3 linked regions of the Homo sapiens genome follow. The protein of the gene in region 1 purifies or fractionates together with the protein of each later gene. This does not show direct contact. Each region holds a gene or a part of one and is shown in the gene's direction. Other genes may lie near its edges.

The links.
Region 2: the proteins of DYRK1B (region 1) and FAM117B purify together in Homo sapiens (affinity purification with mass spectrometry; 4 studies listed by BioGRID and IntAct, with this or other methods). This does not show direct contact.
Region 3: the proteins of DYRK1B (region 1) and FAM53C purify together in Homo sapiens (affinity purification with mass spectrometry; 5 studies listed by BioGRID and IntAct, with this or other methods). This does not show direct contact.

The regions. Positions count from the first base shown.
Region 1 is NC_000019.10:39,831,130-39,840,092, reverse strand, and holds the start of DYRK1B (dual specificity tyrosine-phosphorylation-regulated kinase 1B), read left to right. Parts: upstream 1-5,930; 5' UTR 5,931-6,070; intron 6,071-6,444; exon of another isoform or gene 6,445-6,747; coding exon of another isoform or gene 6,748-6,826; intron 6,827-6,913; exon of another isoform or gene 6,914-7,121; intron 7,122-8,124; coding exon of another isoform or gene 8,125-8,225; coding exon 8,226-8,288; intron 8,289-8,963. Other genes in the region: FBL (rRNA 2'-O-methyltransferase fibrillarin), read left to right, coding at 888-1,058, 2,250-2,382, 3,425-3,537, 5,280-5,425, 5,531-5,555.
Region 2 is NC_000002.12:202,637,239-202,644,968, forward strand, and holds part of FAM117B (protein FAM117B), read left to right. Parts: intron 1-7,730.
Region 3 is NC_000005.10:138,340,536-138,348,265, forward strand, and holds part of FAM53C (protein FAM53C), read left to right. Parts: intron 1-648; 5' UTR 649-681; coding exon of another isoform or gene 682-729; 5' UTR 730-800; coding exon 801-878; intron 879-1,273; coding exon 1,274-1,331; intron 1,332-4,289; coding exon 4,290-5,074; intron 5,075-6,166; coding exon 6,167-6,424; 3' UTR 6,425-7,730.

The DNA.
Region 1 (8,963 bases):
ATCCGCCTTCTGTGACTCCCCACGGCCTTCCAGTTAGACTCCTGAGTCTTCACTCAGGCCTCCAAGACCCTGTGCATTCCAGTTCCCCCTCCCTGCCCCCTGGCTTTGTCTCCTTCACTAACTCTCTGACCAAGTGTCCTCCAGCCACCCTGGCCTTGCTGTTCCCACTCCCAGCTCTGTGGGAGGCTGCGTCCTTATCATCTGCTTCTCCAGGCTGCGTCACACCACTCTGCGGGTCAAGGCATCCCTCACCGCCCTCCCCTGTCCTGTTATCCTGTGTCATTTTCTTTGAGGCCAGGGTGTGCCTGCCTTGGGGCCTTCCTAATCGCTCTCCCTCTCGTGGGAATGTCCTTCCTCAGATAACTTGAATGGCCCCTTGCCTCCTTCAGGTCTGATTTGGAATCTGCCTTTCAGCCCCTCCCTGGCCCCTTTTCCCATTTTCACCTGCTCCTTGCCCTGCTTCCCAAACTCCGTATCTTCTCTCCTGGCTTTGTCTTCTCTCCTTAACACCTGTCACCATCTCATATGCCATGTTGTATTTAGTTAGTTCGGTGAATACTTACACCTTCTGGGCAGGGATCCTTGTTTTGTATCCCCAGCGCCTAGAGCAGGGTCTGGCACACAGTAGGTGCTGGCACAGTGCATGTTTGTTGAACAAGTGCTGGTTTTACTGTTACTGTTTGTGTTTATTCTCTTTTGCTGCCCTTTGGGTCAGTCACCTCCATGAGAGGGCAGCGACTGCATGTGCATGGTCACTGCTCTTTACTCATGTTGAGTTCTTGTGCAGTGATAGGACAGCCCAGTTCCTTTCAAGGCTCCTAGGGTTAAAGGCAGTGAGGTCCTGCAGAAGAGCCTAGCACTGACTTCTGTCCCCATCTCTCATCTAGGAAGGAGATGACAAAATTGAGTACCGAGCCTGGAACCCCTTCCGCTCCAAGCTAGCAGCAGCAATCCTGGGTGGTGTGGACCAGATCCACATCAAACCGGGGGCTAAGGTTCTCTACCTCGGGGCTGCCTCGGGCACCACGGTCTCCCATGTCTCTGACATCGTTGGTCCGGTGAGTGAGTAGATGGAGAGTCAGGCAGGAGGTAAAGGCTGCCTCCCTTCTGCCAACCTGGAATATCAGGGTTTGACTGCTTGCCTGCGCTGTGTGACTTAGGGCCAGGCCCTTTTCTGTCACTGTGCCTGTGAGTAAAAGGAGTGGCTTGAACCAGATAATGTCATTCAACCTCACTCCTGGGTTCTTGGCCTCAAGGGAAGAGACGTGGGTGTGGGGTGACCAACCTTAGAGAGACAACGGGGAGTATAGATACCAGACTATTTGATTTGATGGGCCTCTTTAAAATTTTATGCTGCTAAAACCTGCTCTTCTGGTTTCTTTAGAAAGAACCAGGAGATCTTCATGGTTTCTGAGCCTGTATAGGCTTCCCATTTAGAGGGCCCCTGGCACCCACGTGTCCCACTCTGTTACCCTTTGTTACTTTATGTGTTTATAAGCTGTTAAGTGTAGTGCCTTAAAACCTCAGGCTTTGGCCAGACGAGGTGGCTCATGCCTTTAATCTCAACACTTTCGGAGGCCGAGGCAGGTGGATCACCTGAGGTCAGGAGTTCGAGACCAGCCTGACCAATATGGTAAAACCCCATCTCTACTAAAAATACAAAAATTAGCTGGGTGTGGTGACGTGTGCCTGTAGTCCCACCTACTTGGGAGGCTGAGACAGGAGAATTGCTTGAACCCAGGAGGCGGACGTTGCACTAAGCTGAGATCGCACAACTGCACTCCATCCTGGGCAACAGAGTGAGACTCAAAAAAAAAAAAAAAAAAAACCTCAGGCTTTAATCAGGCAAGTTACCTAACCCATCCAAGCCTCAGTTTACCTGTCTGGAACATAGACTTGTGAAGATTAAATGAGTTAATTTCTGAAAGGTGCTTAGAGCAGTGGTTGGCCCATTGTTACATCATCTCTGTGCCTTGGCTTCCTGGTTTTAAGCCTCTGTTGGGAACCTGGGCTCTCAGGCAGATGGGATTGGGTACTTTTGCTACTTGCTGAATAACTCTTGGCCAGTGACTTTATGTCTGGACCTCAGTTTATTCATGTGAAAAATGGACATGATAGCAATAGTCATTAGATGGTAGGGTTTTGATTTGGGGGTTGGAAGAGATGCTGTGTATAGTGTATGGGCCTAAAGTAGGCACTCCATGCATGAGAACTAGCATCACTGTTCATTAATTTTTAATTTATTTTAGGATGGTCTAGTCTATGCAGTCGAGTTCTCCCACCGCTCTGGCCGTGACCTCATTAACTTGGCCAAGAAGAGGACCAACATCATTCCTGTGATCGAGGATGCTCGACACCCACACAAATACCGCATGCTCATCGGTGAGGGGTCTGGGGGTGGCCCCGGTGGGGTAGGACAGGCCACCGCAGGCTTCTGGAAGAAGCCAGTGGATCTCTGATTCGGATGGAGTTGGAGTGGATGAGCAGACCTCTTGAGTCTGCAGGAATAGAAAGGGGTAAGGGGAGCTAGGTGAGGTTGTGGAGGTGGCAGCTTGGCTTCAGAGTCTTGGAAGCCACCCTTGGAGGGCCAACCTCTTCTCCTTCAGTCTCCTCCCCATCTCCTAGGTCTCCTGTACTTCCTGCCTCTTGTATTTATTACACTACCCCTCCATAAAAAGCCTCCTTTTGGGGGTCCTAATCATTGTCTGGTGAGAGCATATCCCAGAAAACTAAGCATGGCTTGATCTGGAGGGGCCCACTGTGAATATTAATTACTTTGTTTAAAAAAACATTCAAAGATATAATATAAAAGTTGAAAAGCCTTATAAACCACCGCCAGAAGTAACTGATGAGAACAATTTGATGTCTGCTTTTCCCAGGTTTTAAATAATCAGTTTTCATTATACCACCTTTTCATTTTTTGAAAAGTCACACTGGCTTAAAAACATTATTTTTCATTCTGCTCCTTTTTCTTTCTGTGTTTTATTTTTCCCATGCACTCATACCATCCCCTTTGTTCTGCAACTTGTTTTCATTTCACAGTCCTGCGGACACTCTTGCCTATAAGTGCTCACTCACTCTTACTTGTCTTTTTGATGACGTGTCTGTCTCCCCACCAGACCTGGGAGCGTCTCGAGGGCAGGGTCCGGGTCTGACTCGTCTCTATGTCCCCCACGCCCGGCCCAGGGCTGGCCACAGAGTAGGTGGCAACCATGGTTTACAAGAAGAGTGGATGAATGATGTGACTGTGGGTTTTGGACTCATCTTGGGACACTGGAGGGAGGGGGACCAGTGGAGGTGGGGAGTGAAACTGGAGGCAGGGAGAATCTCCCAGGAACCTGCTGGTGATGGGCATAGGCCCCATGGGAGGATCTGGGGTGATCCCTGTGACTCCAACTTTTAACTGCTGCTCCTTTCTCCTTAGCAATGGTGGATGTGATCTTTGCTGATGTGGCCCAGCCAGACCAGACCCGGATTGTGGCCCTGAATGCCCACACCTTCCTGCGTAATGGAGGACACTTTGTGATTTCCATTAAGGTGCGGGGTTTGGAAGAGTCTAAGATGGGGTGGCAGTGTTCTAGGGAGGTATCTTCTCTATCTGTATCTGTCAAATAGCCACCCAAAACAGAGGGGCCAAGTCTGCAAAACTATAGCTTTGGATTTAAAGAGGCAGGAGAGTGCAGCGGTCAAGTGCAAAATTGAGTCTGACCATCTGAGTTTAATCCCAGCCTGCTGTGTGACTGAGCAAGTTACTTAACCTATATGCCTCAGTTTCCTCACTTATGAAATAGAAATATTGTCTAGTCTTTTTCAGGGTAGATGACAGGATCAAATTAGTCAATATAATATGAAGTGTTTAGAAAAGATCCTGGCATAGAATAGATACTAGATAAAAGCTAGGTGCATCTTTCACAGCATTTTTATTTGGAAATAATGGAGAACTCTCCCATGCACCCTTCACAAGGTTCACCATTTGTTAGCCTTTTGCTACATTTGTTTTATTATTCTCAACTGCATTATTACTATTATTAAAGAAGAGGAAGTAGAAATAAGCCAAACAATTCCTGGGTATAAAATTTAAGCACTGGCTTTTAGATAAATAGGACTGTTTAAGGCTTCCTGCTTCAAATCCAAAACAAAACTAAAAACTTTTTTTTTTTTTAATTTGAGACAGAGTCTCGCTCTGTCACCAAGGCTGGCGTGAAGTGGTGCAATCTCAGCTCACTGCAACCTCTGCCTCCCAGGTTCAAGCAATTCTTCTGCCTCAGCCTCCTAAGTAGCTGGGACTACAGGCGTGTGCCACCACACCTGGCTAACTTTTATATTTTTAGTGGAGACGGGGTTTTGCCATGTTGCTCAGGCTGCTCTGGAGCTCCTGAGCTCAGGCAATCTGCCTGTCTCAGGCTCCCAAAGTGCTAGGATTACAGGCACGAGCCACTGCACCCAGCCAAAAACTTTCATTAAGCCTTTTATCACATTTCCTAAACCCGAGTGTCTTAGCCCATTTTATGCAGCTATCACAGAATGCTATAGACTGGGTAATTTATTTATTTTTATTTTTATTTTTATTTTTTTGAGATGGAGTCTTACTCTGTCACCAGGTTGGAGTGCAGTGGTACGATCTCGGCTCACTGCAACCTCCAGTTCCTGGGTTCAAGCGATTCTCCTGCGTCAGCTTCCCGAGTAGGTGGGACTACAGGTGTGCGCCACCACACCCGACTAATTTTTGTATTTTTAGTAGAGATAGGGTTTCACCGTGTTGGCCAGGATGGTCTCAATCTCCTGATTTCGTGATTGAGCCACCTCGGCCTCCCAAAGTGCTGGGATTACAGGCGTGAGCCACCACGCCCAGCCTTAGACTGGGTAATTTATAATGAATGGAAATTTATTTGGCTCCCAGTTCCAAAGGCTGGAAAGTCCAAGATTGGAGGTCTGAATCTGGCGAGGGCCTTCTTGCTGTCATCCATTGGCAGAAGGGTGAGAGCAAGATAGAAAGGGGGCATAATCATCCTTTTAATCAGCAACCCACTCTTGTGATAATAGCATTACTCTATTCAGGAAGGCAGAGGCCTCATGACCTGAATCATCTCTCGAAGGTCCCACCTCTCAACTCTTGCATTTAAGGGTTACGTTTCCAACACATGAACTTTGGGGGACACACTAGAACCATAGCACTGAGTTTTACTTGAATTAATAATGAAAACATCTGGTTTAAAGAGCACACAAGAGAAAAACAGCCCAAAGCCCTGTTGTAGACATTAGTCCTTTCTCCTCTTTAGGCCAACTGCATTGACTCCACAGCCTCAGCCGAGGCCGTGTTTGCCTCCGAAGTGAAAAAGATGCAACAGGAGAACATGAAGCCGCAGGAGCAGTTGACCCTTGAGCCATATGAAAGAGACCATGCCGTGGTCGTGGGAGTGTACAGGTGAGCAGGGGCCCAGCAATACACCAAGACAGACATCTCTGTCCCTTGCACCCCGAGTGCCATGATCCTGGGGACCCTCCTTCATCACCTATCTTCCTCTCACAGGCCACCCCCCAAGGTGAAGAACTGAAGTTCAGCGCTGTCAGGATTGCGAGAGATGTGTGTTGATACTGTTGCACGTGTGTTTTTCTATTAAAAGACTCATCCGTCTCCCATGTCTGCTGCTCATTCCTCCCCTTGACCTGCTGACACAGGGAGCACGCACCCTTGGTCAATTTTGCGGGGTTGGGTAAATTCTCACTCGGTCACAGAGCGCATGCTCCGTTTCTAGCTGCCTTTGCGCAGCGGCAGCCTGGATTTCGGTTCTTGGGTGGGATTGGTAGCTCGCTGCGCATGCGTGCAGGTAAGCGGCCATCTCGCGCAGGCGGAGTGTCAGTGTGGGTCACGTGAGGGGAGCGGAGAGGGAGGGATGGGGGCGGAGTCCAGGGCGTGGGGGGGCCGGTTTGTTGTGGTCGCCATTTTGCTGGTTGCATTACTGGGTAATCGGGGCCCTGGCTTGCCGCGTCCGCCGGATACCCTCAGCCAGTGGGCAGGTCTGAGCTCGGGCTCCCCGAGCAGTTTGAGTCCCCTTGCCCGCTCCTTCAGGTAACGGCGCGGGGACGGGTGGGGCGGCAAGCGGTCGCAGGGAGGTGGGCAGGACGGGATCCGCCCTGCTCCCGTCGCCGTGAGACTTAGCACGAGGCCAAGGGAGGAGAGGAGGGGGGTGGCAGGCAGGTGCGGGCCCTGCCTGGCTATTCATAGTTGAATTCCTGGAACCGGCCAAGCCCGAGGAAGCAGTTGCAGGAGGGAGGCTGGGAGGGGGTAGCCGGGCCCCACTCCCGCCCTTTGTTTGGGCTCAGCTCCGCGGGCCGCTTCTTCGTCGCCTAGCAACAGCTGCCCTAGGCTGTGATTGGCTGAGCTCTTGGCACCAGCGACCAATGGTACAGTTGTTGCCATGGCAGGTGCCGATTGCCAAGCTCAGTCGGGCCCCGCCTTCCGGTCTCAGCAGGCCCAGGAGGGCCTCCTGGGTGGGGGGCGGGACGCCGGGTCCCTAGGGGCTGGTGGTCACTCAGGGTGGGGCGTGTCGCCCCTCCCCCGTCCACCTGCTCTACTCTTCCCCCGCGTGCCCTGGGCTGACCCTTGTCCCCTCCTCTCCCCGCCCCCGGTGGCAGTGGCGGCTGCTGTTGTCACCCACCGGGCCTCCTGTCCCGCTTGCCCTCCCCGCCGCGGGGCCGGCCGGGCCAGAGACAGGCGGTCGCCTTTTCAGCGCCGCCACCGCCGCCATGCTGGCCGCTCGCCCACCCCACTGGGGGCCCCACCGCGCCCCAGCCCCCCGTGGGCCCCGCGCCAGCCCTGACCCGGGTAGGGGGTGGGGGCTGGGAGAGATGATCCTGGTGTGGGAGGGCCCCGGAGAAGAGGTGGTTTTTTGGGGGAAGCTCCAAGGGTGGAGGAGTCGTGGAGTGGCAAGGCATGGAATAGGAGAAAGGGATTTGACATGGGGGAGAGAGTGGCCCATGGGGAGAAGATTTTTGCTGTAGCTGACAACTCTGGGAGGAGAGAACCCTATGTGATAACTTGGGGATTTGACTTTGAGGCCCTCTAGGAGTGGACACAGTTGTGGAATGACCCTGGTATAAAGAGGGGTGCCTGGAGAAAGGTCTGTGGTAGGAATATTAGGGTGTGTGTGTGTGTGTAGGGGGGCAAGGAAGCAGTGTAGGGGAGAAAAGGATGATCACTCTAAACTGTGGGAAGAGACACCTCCTCCTTCTCCCATCAGGAGGAGTGGGCCTTGATTGGGATGGGATATTGGAGTAATATGGGGAAGAACCCTGTTGTGGTAGGGGGAATTGGGATATGGTACAGGGAGACTACCTGGAAGGCTGGTTCCTAATATGGAGGACCTGAAATAGGGAAGCGGTCTTGGCATGATATGGAGAGGGTCCCCTAGGAAAATCGTGCCCTGGTGGATGAGAATGCTGTAGAGATAGGACTCTGTTCTATAGAGGTTCTCAGATAACTTTGGTGTGGTTGGGAGGTCCCCAAGGACGCTGATGTGGTTTTAGGGCTGCAGAGGACTCTGCTGTGGTTTGGGAGGGGAAGACTCATGTGGTTTGGGAATCCTAGAGTTCTCTGGGTTGAGGGAATCTACTGAGAAGGATAGATCTTAAAGTATTGGCCCTGGCTGTGCTACGGGCTGAGATCCTGATGTTCAGGGAAGACTACAGAAAGTGGCATCTTGTGTTAGGGGCCCTGGGGAGGGCCACGAGTAGTGAGAAAAGAATGAAGCCTACTCCTCTGCATACTGTCTGTGGTTTCTTTTTTCTTTTCCTCCTCTGAATTATTGGTGTCTTCCTGTCCTCCTTTCCCTGTGATGGCTCATATCGACCCCTGCTTGGCCCCCAATCATTGTCTTTTATGTGTTCTCTTTGTGCTGCCTTAATCATTTACTTGATCATTATTTGTCGAGGGACTGCTGTGCCATCCCCCCCCACCTGGCTACCACTTCTCTGCCCCTTCTCTTCATTGCTATCTGCTGCTCCGTTGTGCCCTTTTCCTCTTCTCTCTGTGCCCTGTCTTTCTCATGTCCACTCTTCCCCGCCTGGCACTATTCACATATCCCCTTGTTCCATGTTGTTTTCCCACTTCCTGTCTGCTCTCAGGTCTCAGCGGCGGTGGCAGCCGAGGTGCAGGATGCAAGAAGGCGCCCCCCGGCCGGGCTCCCGCTCCAGGCCTCGCTCCCCTGCGGCCCTCTGAGCCCACCATGGCCGTCCCACCGGGCCATGGTCCCTTCTCTGGCTTCCCAGGGCCCCAGGAGCACACGCAGGTACGCGTTCAGCTGGCTCCTCACCTGCGTGGTGGTAGGGGGAGGCTGGGGATAGAAAGGTCTCCAGACCAAAAGGTAGTGTGGTTGCCCAAGACATTCTTCTGGGCACATAATGGGTCCCATGGGATTGGAAAATAACAGAGGAGTTTTCAGGCAGAGTCAGGGTTTGGAGAGGCTGGGTTCAAATCCTGACCCAGTGGTTAAATTCCTTAGGTTCTCCATACTTGAGTTGGAGAACTCAACTCATTCTGTGAAATGGGGCCAATAATGATACCTACTTCACAGGGTTGTTGTGAGGATTAAATGAGTTAATGGTATGCATGTAAAACACTTAGAATGGTGCCTGGCACATAGTAAATACCCAATAAATGCTACTAAGAAAAGTTCAGAGTGAAAGATCTGGATTGGGTGAATTTGGAGGGGGGTTGAGTCTAAAGGGTCTTGAGGCCAACAGGCATGGGTGGTGAGGGCAAAGCTCTCCCAAGGCTAGAGGCAGTGAAGGCAGTGACATGCAGAGCTTGAAGCAGGATGAAGTGGGAGGTCCAGGGGCCAGATCCAGATCCAAGAGCCTTGGGGTGAAAGAACTGTGCAAAGAGTTGGTGGGAGTATGGGTTGAGGCCCAAGGGATGAGGGTAAATTGAGATAGAGGTACTTCAGAGGGTACCCAAAATGGCT
Region 2 (7,730 bases), on another chromosome or scaffold:
ATGTATTTATTTTTATTTATATTTTTATTTATTTTTTGAGACGGAGTCTTGCTCAGCTGCCCAGGCTGGAGTGCAGTTATGTGATCTCGGCTCACTGCAACCATGGTCTCCTGGGTTCAAGCGATTCTCCTATCTCAGCCTCCCGAGTAGCTGGGATTACAGGCACCCGCCATCATGCCCGGCTAATTTTTGTATTTTAGTAGAGATGGGGTTTCACCATGTTTGCCAGGATGGTTTGGAACTCCTGACCTTATGTGATCTGCCCGCCTTGGCCTCCCAAAGTGCTAGGATTGCCCAGCCCAGAGCACTATTTTAAACCTTTTGAGAATGCAGAATGCTTTTCTAAAACTGTGATAAAAGTACTAGATTTCCCCTCCCTGCTTCATAACCTCTGTCACCTACTGAACTCTTACTATTTGGCAGGTGGTTTTTATGCAAAATCTCATTTAACCCTCACTATAGCTTTTAGAGAGGTTAAGTAACAAGTGGCAGAGTTGGTATTTATTTGAACTTTGGTCAGTTGTACTCCAAAGACCATGTCTTTATATTATATCAAGGAAGTGACATCATGATGTGTAAGATAGAATGTGGGAAATATATAGCACACCAAAATTACATGTACTTAGTTAGGTAACTTTTTTTTTTTTTTTTTTTTTAAGATGGAGTCTCACTCTGTCACCTAGGCTGGAGTGCAATGGGGCAATCTTGGCTCACTGCAACCTCTGCCTCCCGGGTTCAAGCGATGCTCCTGCCTCAGCCTCCCGAGTAGCTGGGATTACAGGCATGCGCTACCACGCCTGGCTAATTTTGTGTTTTTAGTAGATACAGGGTTTCTCCACATTCGTCAGGCTGGTCTCAAGCTCCCAACCTCAGGTGACCTGCCGACCTCGGCCTCCCCAAAGTGCTGGGATTACAGGCATGAGCTACCGCGCCCAGCCACTAGTTAAGTAACTCTTACAGATATGAACAAAACTGCTTCAGTCCTTCAGCCTTCTGGAGCCAGCATAGTGCATCAGGTGGAAGGGAAGGAGCTGGCTTATAAGTGGGCAGTAGAGGTGGCAGAAGGAGGCACAGCCTGTAGTCTGATAACAGAATCTGGCTCTCTTAACAACTGTTTGACACTCAGAGAAACACCCTGAGGAGAACTGGGTTGAATTAAGTATTGGCAAGGTGTGGAGGAAGGTACTCTTTTTCTCTGATCTCTAGGAGGGCTCTATTTCCTGGGATGTCAGGCTACTCCCATGTCCTCTCTTCATGGTTTTTGAACGCTCCCCTTCCCTAGATCATCCCGTAGAGTATTTGCTGTAAAATTATCCCCATTTGCTCCCCTATCAAAATAAATAAATAAATAAATAAATCCAGAAAAATAAAAACTCTTATTTCTCAAAGTGTAGTCTGTGGTTTATCTGTATCAGAATTAGGGTGTGTGGTATAATAAAAAATAATTTGGCCAGGCGCGGTGGCTCACAGGGGTAATCCCAGCACTTTGGGAGGCCGAGGCGGTGGATCACCTGAGGTCAGGTTTAATACCTGTGTTCCGCCAACTAGAAAAATAAAAACTCTTATTTTTCTAGTGCAGCACTTTCACTTGGGTGTGAGAAATATTGTCTGTTATTAAGTCATACTCTAGTTTGAATGTCTCATAGTTTCATTCCCAGGAATTGTTGTTTCACTCTAGTAAATATCCATGCAGAGTAGAACAAAGTGTTTTCAGATTTCAGGTGTTCATAACACACACAAAACTACGATGAAATCATTTGCTGTTTTTATCTGACTAAATCTGGAAGGAAAGTCTTTGTAAACGTCAGAGTCCCTTTTTCATTAAAGGGAGGCTACCACCAGTTTGCAGCTGTGATGAATGTAAAAATCCCTACCGTAAAGGGTAAGGGTCTACCCCATATAATTCTATAAACCTCATAGGACTCAAATTTCAGGGTCCATCTAGATCAGGCTGTTGACTTCTAGGTGTCTTATCAGATGAACTGGATGCTGTAACCTTTGTTAGGGATCCGGTATCTCAGAGTCCCTAAGTTGAAGGTATCAAGATCCCTATCCAGTTGCTTTATTCTTCTAGGGTTAGAGCTAATTGGCTGGTGTAGAACTTCCTACTCTTGACTACTATAAAGTAATCCAAGCACCCATCCCTGACAGATATTTTAAACTTCCCACCTTCAGTGACTGTCATCTCCATAGCAAAGCCGTTTGTCATTAGGAACTGAGGTATGTTTAGAAAAGGTACCTAGGCAACAGTGTTAACCAGAAAGTTTATTTTTGTGCCTTCTCTCCTTTTACCCAACTTCATTTTACTTATTAAAATGTCAAATAGATTACAAATGGAGAGATGGTATAACATCGAGGTGAGGAGGATATACTTTGGGTAGACAGTTTGAGTTTAATACCTGTGTTCTGCCAACTAGAAGCCATGTGATATGGAAAGTTATTTTTCTTATCTGTGAAATGGGTGGTGAAATCTACTTCATATGATAGTAGGGATTAAATAAGGGAAAACTGAAAAACAGCACAGTACCTCAGTATAAAAGTTAGCTGTTGTGTATCATATTAGTTTTGCTTCTAGTTTTAGTGTATTTAACATAAATTACCAGTGTAGGTTCAGTTTTCATGGTTGTATGAAGTTTCAAATTGGTGATAACATTGCCTGTGAACATCCAGAATGGTGTTTCTCAAAGTGTAGTCTGTGGTTCATCTGTATCAGAATTACTTAGGGTGTGTGGTATAATAAAAAAAATTTGGTCGGGCACGGTGGCTTATACCTGTAATCCCAGCATTTTGGGAGGCCAAGGTGGGTGGATGACCTGAGGTCAGGAGTTCGAGACCAGCCTGCCCAACATGGCGAAACCCTGTCTCTACTAAAAATACAAAAAATTAGACAGGTGTGGTGGCAGGCGCCTATAATCCCAGCTACCGGGGAGGCAGAGGCAGGAGAATCACTTGAACCCAGAAGGTGGAGGTTGCAGTGAGCCGAGATTGTGCCACTGCACTCCAGCCTGAGCAACAAGAGCAAAACTCCGTCACAACAACCACCACCACCACCACAAAATATATATATATATATATATATATATATATATATATATATATATATATGGCAAGTCGTGTTCTTGCTAGTTTCCCCCTTCCTTTGGATGTATTAAGTTGTGTATAAATTCGTTTGTTTATTGGAGTTGGGGAGTGCCAAGGGCAGCAAAAAGTGATAACTTCTTTGGACTAATAGGCAGAATCAAGAAGCAAGATAACCAGAACTTATATTTGTGTCATCTTTGATGTCTACTTTCTAGTACCTTATGAAATATGTCTCTAAGAATTTAGTGTTTCTCTAACATTTGGAGGATTGCTGCTAACATTACACATTCAAGGGAATTCTTTTTTTTTTTGGAGACTGGGTCTCTGTCACCCAGGCTGGAGTGTAGTGGCACGATCTCGGCTCACTGCAACCTCTGCCTCCGGGGTTCGGGTAATTCTCCCGCCTTAGCTTCCCGAGTAGCTGGGACTACAGGTACATGCCACTATGCCCAGCTAATTTTCTGTATTTTGGGTAGAGACTGGGTTTCACCATGTTGCCCAGGGTGCTCTCCAACTCCTGAGCTCAAGCTATCTGCCTGCCTCAGCCCCCCAAAGTGCTGGGATTAGAGGCACGAGTCACCCACACCCGGCTAAAGGGAATTCTTTTGGTTTGTGATGTCTATATTTTGCAATGAAGATGAGACAAAGTAGAAACTATTAGTTTTATGTCTTGGCTAGTAGAATTTACATTTAATTAAGTTAAATTCTGTAAGCTTTGATTGAACTACTCTGTGTTATTAACAGTGTAATACAAAGATGTAAAACACACAAGGAATTCCAGAGACTCACAAACTAGCCATGTAAGACAGATACATAAGCATATAATGTGATGAGTTTTCTGGCTTAGAGAGTGAATAATTCCACAGGGGATGGGTATAGAGGTTCCCTCAGAGGAGATGAATTTTGAATTGGATTACAAAGGGAAGAACAGAACTTTGCAGTTGGATCTTAGAGGTGTGAAAATAAGCCTATCATATTCAGTTCTTTGTGGCTTGAAATGTAGGGTAATAGGGTGTTGGGATGGGGAGAGCGGAAATAGTAGAGAAAGAAGGGAGAGACGTAAGTTTTCAGAATGACTTTGAATAGAATATATACATTAGAAAGTATTCCATGGTTAATAGTATGTACTCTGGAGCCAGACTGTCAGGGTTCAGACCCTGGAGTTGCCATTTACTTGCTAGCAGTTTAACTTTAGGCAAGTTCACTTTACTTGTAAAAAGGGGATACTAATGATACTTACCGTAGATAATTGTTTCAAGGAATAAAATCTTTGTAATCTGTGTGTGGGGTATAGGAATCTCAATATTAGATATTTTATTTTCTTTTTTTTTTTTTTTGAGATGGAGTTTCACTCTTGTTGCCCAGACTGGAGTGCAATGGCAGATCTTGGCTCATTGTAACCTCCGCCTCCTGGGTTCAAGCGATTCTCCTGCCTCAACCTCCTGAGTAGCTGGGATTACAGGCGCCTGCCACCACGCCCAGCTAACTTTTGTATTTTTAGTAGAGACAGGGTTTCACTATGTTGGCCAGGCTGGTCTCGAACTCCTGACCTCAGGCGGTCCATCCGCCTCGGCCTCCCAAAGTGCTGAGATTACAGGCATGAGCCACCGCGCCTGGCAGATATTTTCTTTTTTTTTTTTTTTATCGGAGTCTTACTCTGTCGCCCAGGCTGGAGTGCAGTGGTGTGATCTCGGCTTACTGCAACCTCCGCCTCCCAGGTTCAAGCCATTCTCCTGCCTCAGCCTCCTGAGTAGCTGGACTACAGCCGTGTGCCACCATGCCCGGCTGATTTTTGTACTTTTTTTTTTTTTTTTTAGTAGAGACGGGATTTCACCATATTGGACAGGCTGGTCCTGAACTCCTGACCTCGTGATCTGTCCGCCTCGGCCTCCCAAAGTGCTGGGATTGCAAGCGTGAGCCACCACGCCCAGCCAGATATTTTCACATCATTGTCTTCCTTCTCATCCAAGGCTTTAGGCACTCACAGTTATTATTACTAGTATTTATATTCTTAGAATAAATAGAATATATATATATATATATATAAAATGAGTAGAGTGTGACTTGAGATAGGAGAAACTCACAAAGGCATTGATCACCTGAATTTTGGGGGAATGGCAGTGGGAATGGCAAGAGTAAAAAAGATTGAAAAGACTGATTTGGCAAACTGTTGGATGTAGGGATTGAGAAACGGGGAGTTGAGGGTGATAGTTTGGATGGTGGTTCTAATTGATAACAGTGAGGAGAACAGATTTGGGAAAAGAAAATGAACTCAGTTGTGGATGTATTTGGTTTGTGCTCTCAGGAACTTCAGATAATTTTCTAGATTGTGGCAAATAACATTTTAAAACTCAGGGATACACTTTGAACTTGGGGGTAAAAATTAGGACTCATTTATTGCAGTTCAGTAAACATTCATTTAACATGTACATCATGCTAGGCATTTACATGTGGGCAACACTCGAAATGACTAATCACTAGGGTGGATAAAATGATAGGGAAAATGCTGAAGATAGAACTCTGGGAGGAAACAAGCATTTTTAAGGGTAGAAAGAAAAGCCAGTGAAGAAACCTGTGAAATGTGGTAGGAGGAGAAATGGTAGAATAGTGTTGAGAAAGCCGAAAAGAAAGATTGTATTTCAAGGAGAGATAGGAAAGATTTTCAAATGTCGTGAAGTAGGCTGAGCCTGGAGAATAGGCCTTTGAATCTGGCATGTAGATTAGTCAATGATCTGTGAGAGAAAGTAGTTTGAGAAGCATGTTGGGGGCACAAATCAAAGTGGAGGATGAGGAAGTAGAGGTAATGAGTATAAAGTACTTTAATGTGGACGGAAGGAAAGTGAAAAAACTGGGTGAAGGGTGTGCTTAAGCTTCAGTTATTTACAGGATGTGGAAAACTTCAGCTTGTTTATAGCTTTTAGGGAAAGGATTTATAGAATGAAAGATTGTAAATTCAAGAGAAGATGGTAAATGTAGATGGAGCAAGGTTATGGAAAATGCGAGAGGCATGGGATCCAGTACATGGTAGAGTCTGGAAATCTCAGAAACAAGGACATTTTTTTCTCTGAGGAGGGGAAGAGGTAAGGGCGTAGGTTAAGATGATAGGTAAATCAGCAGTAGAAGGGAAGGAAGTTGAGAAAGTAAGCTACTTCCTTTTCCAAACTACTTGAAGGCAAAAATAGCATGCTTGTCTTTATACTATATTTTTAAATTTAAATTTATTTTTTTAAACTACGTGTGCATAATTTAAAATGTCAAATAGCACTGAACTTATTATCAAATAAAATGTTCCCTTGTCACATCTTTCTCCACTCCCTCTTCCTGCCCCCTAGAAACAACCACTTTCAACTCTTAGAGGTTTCTTTGGCTGTTTACCTACACATTTCTTTTTCTTTCTTTCTTTTTTTTGAGACAGAGTCTCGCTCTGTCACCCAGGCTGGAGTGCAATGTCAGGATCTCAGCTCACTGCAACCTCTGCCTCTTGGGTTCAAGCAATTCTTATGCCTCAGCCTCCTGAGTAGCTGGGATTGTAGGTGTGTAGCACCATTCCCTGCTAATTTTTGTATTTTTAGTAGAGGCAGGGTTTCCCCGTGTTGGCCAGGCTGGTCTCGAACTCCTGGCCTCAAGTGATCCACCCGCCTTGGCCTCCCAAAATGCTGGAATTACAGGCGTGAGCCACCGTGCCTGGCCTACACATTTCTAAATAATATGCTATACTACTGCTTTAGGAGCTGTTTTTTTTTTGTTTTTTTTTTTTTTTTTTTTCAGTTTTATGTATTATGTAGTGACTTGCTACTGTGGAAAATGTACACTTAATTCTCTAATCACCATCCTACCGAATCCTTCCATTGTAGGTGTAGCATCTTTTGGTTAAATCAGTATTAATGTTATTATGACCATGTAAATATTGATTACAGTAGAGCCTTGTTGGATACTACAGTTATATTTTCTTTTTAAATAACTTTTTGTGGTCTTTGAGGTTAAAATTGTTTTTCATTTTGATTGCTTCGTTTTCTATGTACCTATCACAAATTTATCCCTAAGAAAGTTTTGATAATGGAAACTTCCTGTAAATAATTAAAAACATAGCAGAGAGTTACTTTTGTTTATTTTCCTTGGAGATATGTCTTTTGGAGTCCCTCATCCTCATATTCCAAATTAGCTCATTGATCTCTACATCTGTGGCACAGCTATTAGAACCGGGAACTTCCCTGGGAATTCTCTTCACTTCTCTCCTGTTTTGGATACTCTAATTTCTGGATGTTGTTTTGCTGGAGTGCATTTTCCAATAATTTTTTGAGAGAGGATACATGGGAGGTATATGTTATACCCAGACCTTGAATATCTTCAGTGATGTCTTTATACTTGCCGGTTTGACTGGGTATAGAATTAGAATTGTAGGTTGGAAATAATTTTTCCACTGGGTATTGAAAGCACTTCATCTTCTAGCTTTTGGAATTGCTGTTGAGAATTTGGATGCCATTCTGATTCTTAATCCTTTGTTGGTGATGGTGTCTGTCCTCTGTGGAAGGGTTACCACCATTCTGAAATGAGGATTGCCTTGTTGTGAGGTGTTTCATTGTTTGTTTTCTGTTCACTGTGCTGGTTACTCTGTGGGCTTTTTCAGTCTAGAGACTATTTCTGGGAAT
Region 3 (7,730 bases), on another chromosome or scaffold:
GCTAAAAACTTAGTTGAACAGTCATGGAGTTGTTGTTTACGACGTCTGTAGAGTTGAAATGTATTGGAATTACCCTGACCATTTCTTTATCTTCCCATTTGATAAGAAAACAAACACTGTATCTATTGGAAAACAATAATATATCAGATGTTTAGGCTGTGGGAGGACATAAAATCCTATGTACTCAGGTCTAAAGCAGAAAGTCTTGCCTACAACCACTGTTCTTCCTTGTTCTCTTATTACTATTTCTGTAGTTTAGGAGAAGGGTACCTCTTTTCACTTCTGACTGGAAGATAAAATACTGGGCTGATCTTGATGGAAATAATCATTTGGGCATCCCTCTCTCTCACTTGAGCAGCTGTTTTCTAAGTGGTGCTGGTATTCCAGTTAGAAACAACAGAGCATGAACCAGTTTAAGGGTAGCAAATAAGTTTCAACTTGATTGCCAACTCTATTTTATTTCATATCTGGACTGCCAAGTTCATAATTTCTGAAGCTGTGTTTAGGCTTAGCTGGAAAGAGCTGTGATCAATTGATGTCTGCCAGAGGCCTGGCTTAGGGGTGCTGTGGTATGTGTGCCATGCATTTTCCATCTCTGGACCAGGTGCATCTCTAATATCACTTGGGGCTGGTCCCTCTAATTGGCAGACTCAGCAGGCATGACTGGAGAGGGAAGTCCCAATGGTGCTAGAATGGTGCTGCAGTGGCAGAAGACGGCTCACAAGTGAGGTCTGGAAGAACAACAGGGAAGACATCCATCATTTGCTCCAAAGTGTGCAAGTCAAATCCTGGGGAGAATCATGATAACCCTGATCACTGAGCAGCTACAGAAGCAGACTCTGGATGAGCTGAAATGCACACGCTTCAGCATCAGTCTGGTAAAAGACCAGTCTTCCTGCTTCTCCACGACCCCCTCCCCCTTTTTTCTGAGGCTGATTGTTGCTATTACTTTACTCTTGTCCTGTGCTGTATGAATCATGGTACTTAACCTGGAAGAGCCCACTAATGGCTCAAAACCCAGCCCAAAAGGAAGGGGGCAGGGATTTTTCCACCGATAGAGAAGGGACAGCAAAACTTGGGTGGAGAAGGGTTTGAGATGTTGGAAGATGTGGATTGTTTGACTTACTAACTTTGGGAAGACAAGAGGAAGAACACTTAATGTCCCTAACATCCCTGTAGCTCATGAATCGCAGAGGAGAACTGAAGAGGGCTTCCTAGAAATCTGTCAGTGTGTCCTGAATCCAAATCATGATGGATATTCTCTCTTTCTTAGCCTTTGCCTGATCATGCAGACATCTCCAACTGTGGGAACTCTTTCCAGCTTGTGTCTGGTAAGGCATCGTGTGTGTTTGTGTACGTGTGTGTACCCATTCCTCTCTCCACACATTTCTATCATTGGTTTCCAGTGACCAGGGCTAGCGAGCCTACCTCTAGAACCTTCTTGCCAGGGTCAACTTCTGAGATTGACAGTTGTCTTTCATGTTCTAGCATGAAAGTTATCTGGTTGGTTTGCTCTTATTCTAGCTTTGTGGGGACTTGTATAATCTAATTTTTTGAATAGGTAATACATTCACATGGTTCAAAATTTAAAAAATAACAACAAAAAGGTTATGCTGAGAAAAGTCTCTCTTACTCTCCCGTTCCCTATCTACCCAGCTTCTACCACCTCCCTAAAAGTATTAGTTTCTTATACAGTATATGTGACTAGAATTTCTTTATATAAAAAGAAGCAAATGTATATATTTATTTCCTTTCTTTTTTAAGTTCTCGGATACATGTGCAGAACGTGCAGGTTCGTTACATAGGTGTACATGTGCCATGGTGGTTAGCTGCATCTATTTTATTTCCACGTTTTTAACACAAAAGGTTGCATACTATATATTATTTTGTACCTTTAAAAAAAAAAATGGGACCGGGCCTAGTGGGTCACACCTATAATCCCAGCACTTTGGGAGGCCAAGGTGGGCAGATCACCTGAGGTCGGGAGTTCAAGACCAGCCTGACCAACATGGAGAAACCCCATCTCTACTAAAAATATAAAATTAGCCAGGCGTCGTGGCGCATGCCTGTAATCCCAGCTACTCGGGAGGCTGAGGCAGGAGAATCACTTGAACCCAGGAGGTAGAGGTTGCGGTGAGCCAAGATTGCGCCATTGCACTCTAGCCTGGGCAACAAGAGCAAAACTCTGTCTCAAAAAAAAAAAAAAATTGCTGGGCACAGTGGCTCATGCCTGTAATCCTAGCACTTTGGGAGGCCGAGGTGGGCGGATCATGAGGTCAGGAGTTCGAGACCAGCCTGGCCAACACAGTGAAACCCTGTCTCTACTAAAAATACAAAAATTAGCCTGGCATGGTGGTACACACCTGTAATCCCAGCTACTCGGGAGGGCAAGGCAGGAGAATCACTTGAACCCAGGAGGTGGAGGTTGTGGTGAGCCCAGATCATGCCACTGCACTCCAGCCTGCACAACAAAGCAAGACTCCATCTCAAAAAAAAAAAAAACAAAAAACAAAAAAAACTTTAATATAGCTAGGAGATCTTTCCCTATCAGAATGCTGAGTATTCATTCCCTTGTTATATATAGCTACATATTATTACACTGCATAGATGTACAGTGGCTTATTTAATGAGTTTTCTATTGATGTGCATTTAGGTTATTTCTAATCTTGTTTGGATACATAAAACTGTAGTGGGCCAGACGTGGTGACTCATGCCTGTAATCCCAGCACTTTGGGAGGCCGAGGTGGGCAGATAGCATGAAGCCAGGAGTTCGAGACCAGCCTGGCCAGCATGGTGAAACCCCGTCTCTATTAAAAATACAAAAATTAGCTGGGCATGGTGGCAGGCGCCTGTAATCCCAGCTACTCAGGAGGCTGAGGCAGGAGAATCCCTGGAATCCAGGAGGCGGAGGTTGCAGTGAGCCGAGATCGCACCCACTGCACTCCAGCTTGGGCAACAGAGCGAGATTCCATCTCAAAAAAAAAAAAAAGAAAGAAAAAAGAAACTGTAGTGAATAACCTTGTACATATGTCATTTTTTCACATGTGAAAATATATCTGAGGTATAAATTCGTAGATTATTAATTACTGAGTTAAAGGGCCCCTGATCGTAGGGACATTTAGATGGAGGCATCACTGGTGGACAATCAGAACTCCCTAACTCGTGCTGCTCAGCAGTTCTGCATCTCATTTTCTTTTCTGGGATACCTAGCAAGGGAAGTGAGTTGGCAAAAACATGTTCATTCAGTCTCTTCCTCCTGTTTATTAAAGACTTGCTGAAAGCCAGGTATTGTGTCATAAGTATAGAGCAGGAACTCATGGTCCCTGCCCTCATAGTGGTTAGTAGAGGGAAGAACTATAGACCAAATACACTCAGTATGAATTTTGCCACCATCAAGTCTGACTTCGTATACTTGTCGTTTGCCCCAAATATCCAGCCCCTGCAGAATTCCAGCCAGCTAGCCAGAGGAGTTTGGATTAGGCCCTTTGTCCCTTAATGAGCCGTCTCCCAAAAGTCACAATTTTGGTTGGAATACAGTGAGTGAGGATTGTTTCTTTTAGTCCATTTTCCCTTCCTTCTCTTGGTCCCTCCATCTGTTTGGATTTAAGAGAAGGCCTAGGGGAAGGGAATCGGAATATGTGGGTGGCCAGACAGAAACGAAGATGAGCAGCACAAAGTCAGGGTTTCCCAAGCCCAGGTTTCACTGTCAAAGGCCTTCCCCACCCTGTTTGCCCTCCCTAGGAATAAAAGTGATCTCTTACCTGCCTGATTACCTCTTACTTCTTGGCAGTCCTAACTCCTGACTTGGTGCTGTTGACACATGAGAGGAGGAAAGGCCGAGAAAGAAGAGCATAGGCCTGCTTTTCAGCATCCAGGGCAAGCGTGGGGGAGGGGCGAGGGAGAGATGAGCAGGACACTCACAAACGTGTTTGTTTCTCTTGACTTCTTTTACCTTTGAGAGGGAGTGGCAGGCAGTAGATGAAATGTTTTTGATTCCAGGTAGTTGGTCACAATGGAGGCAATAGAGCATAGTGGTTTAAAAACCTAGCCTTCGCATCAGACAGACCTGGATTTGAATCCTCCTTTGGTCTTTTGAGTGCTATGTGATTTTGGGAAAGTTATTGAATTTCTCTTATCTGTGAAATGGGGATAATGATAACGATACTACCTACCTCATAAGGTTTTTGGAAATTTTCACATAAAATGCTCCATACATTATGTGGCAAATGGTAAGTTCTTAAAAAATGTAAGCTATCATTAATATTATTCTTATTATAAATGCCTTCCAGAAGGTGCTTCCTGGAGGGGCCTGCCCCACTGTTCCTGTGCTGAGTTCCAGGACAGCCTCAACTTCAGCTACCATCCCTCAGGCCTGAGCCTGCACCTCAGACCACCCAGTCGGGGAAACTCCCCCAAGGAGCAGCCCTTCTCCCAAGTCCTAAGACCTGAGCCCCCAGATCCAGAGAAGCTTCCTGTGCCCCCTGCCCCTCCATCCAAGAGGCACTGCCGCTCACTCTCAGTGCCCGTGGACCTGTCTCGCTGGCAGCCGGTGTGGCGGCCCGCCCCCTCCAAGCTGTGGACTCCCATAAAGCACCGGGGCAGTGGTGGAGGGGGTGGGCCGCAGGTGCCTCACCAGAGCCCCCCAAAGCGGGTCTCCAGCCTCAGGTTCCTCCAAGCTCCCAGTGCCTCTTCTCAATGTGCCCCAGCTCACAGACCCTACAGCCCTCCTTTCTTCAGCCTGGCCCTGGCCCAAGATTCCTCTCGACCCTGCGCCGCCTCCCCTCAAAGTGGCTCCTGGGAGAGTGATGCTGAGTCCTTGTCACCTTGCCCACCTCAGCGCCGCTTCTCCCTGTCACCCAGTCTGGGCCCGCAGGCAAGCCGCTTCTTGCCCTCTGCCCGGAGCTCTCCCGCATCCTCCCCAGAGCTGCCCTGGCGACCTCGAGGTCTCCGCAACCTTCCCCGAAGCCGCTCACAGCCTTGTGATCTGGATGCCCGCAAAACTGGGGTCAAGCGGCGCCACGAGGAAGACCCCCGGCGTCTGCGGCCTTCGTTGGACTTTGACAAGATGAATCAGGTGGGACCAGCAAGACTAGGGGAGCTTAGATGGGAGTGTGGGGACTGTTCTGTTTCCACTTTTGAGCTAGCCCCTAGCTTCATTACCCTGCCGCCCCCACCACCAACAGCACCTCCTTTAGCTCTTAGCTAGGGTGACCTACCATCCCAGTTTGCCTGGGACTGTCCCAGTGTTAGCACTGAAAGTCCCCCCATCCTGTGAAATGCCTTAATCCTGGGAGTTAGAGAAACTGGGGTGAGACCCATGTTAAACCTTCCAACAGAGATCCCAAATTGTCCTGCAAGAGGTACTTTCCCTCCTTTCCAAGAATGCACAAGCTGCAAAAAATTCCATCAGTACCTACTCCTTGTGCCCAAAGCTGTTTTTGCCACTTGCCTGTCACTGCTTCAAAGTGGGTCTGTGAGGGCTGAAGCAAGATGGGCTGCTACAGTGTATTCATCTGTTAGACAAATGTTTTTTGACTTCCTGGTGTGAGTACAATTATTGTATGTATGCACTTTGCTCACTTTTTTCATATTATTCTTTCTAGACCACTAGGTTACAAACCTCTTTAAGAATTAATTAATTTTTTCATACAGTCGTCCATCCCATCTGCAAACATTTACTGACTCTGACTAGGCACTGGCAGTACAAAGTAATGAAACACTGCAGATGATGTTCCTGCCCTCACGGAGCTTCTATTCTTCAATTCAATGGAAACAATGGGCTCCAAATTTTGTCAGAAAGTTTACAAACGCCAGGCATGGTGGCTAACGCCTGTAATCCCAGCACTTTGGGAGGCCAAGGCAGGCGGATCATGAGGTCAGGAGATTGAGACCATCCTGGCTAACACGGTGAAACCTCGTCTCTACTAAAAATATAAAAAATTAGCCGGGCGTGGGCCGGGCACCTGTAGTCCCAGCTACTGGGGAGGCTGAGGCAGGAGAATGGCGTGAACCCGGGAGGCAGAGCTTGCAGTGAGCCAAGATCACGCCACTGCACTCCAGCCAGGGTGACAGAGTGAGACTCCGTCTCAAAAAAAAAAAGTTTACAAACCTCACCCTAAAGAATTCTTGCCTTCAGGTGTAACTGTCTTCTTTGTTTGTTTGACAGAAACCATACTCAGGAGGTCTTTGTCTCCAAGAAACAGCCCGGGAAGGCAGCAGCATCTCTCCACCATGGTTCATGGCCTGTAGCCCCCCACCCCTCTCTGCTTCCTGCAGCCCCACTGGGGGTTCCTCCCAGGTGCTGAGTGAAAGCGAAGAGGAGGAGGAGGGGGCTGTGCGGTGGGGTCGGCAGGCGCTGAGCAAGCGGACACTGTGCCAGCGGGACTTTGGGGACCTGGACTTGAATTTGATTGAGGAAAACTAAAACTGAGAGGCTACTTCCTGGGGCCACACAGACTGACTCTCTCATGGCTACTAACAAGTGTCGAGTCCCCAAGGCTGGGGGCCGAGCCTGGGAATGGGGGTGAGTGGAGGGCTCCGACTCAGGGCAGCTGGAAATCTTCTCGCTCCAGCAAGCTCGACCATGCCAAGAGACTGGCCGGGACAAGATAAACGGAGCTGGTGGCGGGAGGGACAGCCCCAGAGCAGACCCTTCCTATGGCGGCCCTGAGTGTGAGTATCCCTGCCACCAAGAGAGCAATGGGCAGGGAAGGAAGGGGTCTGCCGACCCCAGCTCGGGGAATTTCACTAGCCCCTTTGCTTCAAAGGGCACTTGTGTCTTAGAATTTGGCCAGGGTGGGGGGTTGAGTCAGCCTCCTCAGAGAAACTGCGTGAGAGTGTGTGCGTGCATGGGAGTGTACTTGTGGAAAGGTGTGTTTGCGTAGCCTTAGGGAAGGAAGGCAATTGCTCCTTAACAGCAGAGTATCATGATACCCCCAGGATCTTGAGTTTTTTACAGGATGTTGGGTTTGCTCAAGGAGTCAAGAGGAGGGCACCAAGTTTTCCTTTTTTCTAAATAGCTCTGGAACCAGGCTTGTAATCCATAGCATCACCGACTCTGCAAAGGATTTCATTTTGGGGTACAGCAGGGTGTTTTAAGTGCTGTGACTTCAGCTAATGATCTTTTCTTCAGCCCCACCCCCTCCCCACTAGCTCGATCTAGTATATTGGGGAATGCAGGTGGGGGGTGTCACCATATTTTTTCTGAGCTGGCCTTTTTTTCTCATCAGATTGTCCAGGCTATATTCCACCTGCCTCTTTTGCCCTCTTGAGTAGAGTTGCACACAGCACATGGGCAACTGAAGCAGGGTTGAGGGGCTCTCTCTCTCTCTCCTCTGCTGATGGGACCCTTTTCCCCTCACCCTCTGCCCTTCTAAGTCATAGACTAGGTAGGAAGGCCCTATATTGGTCCCCAGCATCTACTGAGGCAGACCTGCAACAGAAGTGGCATTCAGTCCCCAGCAGACATGGGTGAGCTCACCCCAGCACTGCTGTTGGGAAGGTGACTGCAGGAAACCAATTCTTACAAGATCCAGGCCCAGCCTTTTTGACCTGCTTGAGAGGGAAGAAGGGGTGTTTAGCATTTAATAGTTTGCTTGTCTTCCACTCCTGCCAGGAAGTGTTTATTTGCCTCTAATTGGGCCTGAGAGACCATAGGGAGGTTGGGGCTCACTGAGGGATTGGCTGAGGATGTATAAAGCAAAGGCTGTGAGAAGCAGTTGGGAGTTTGG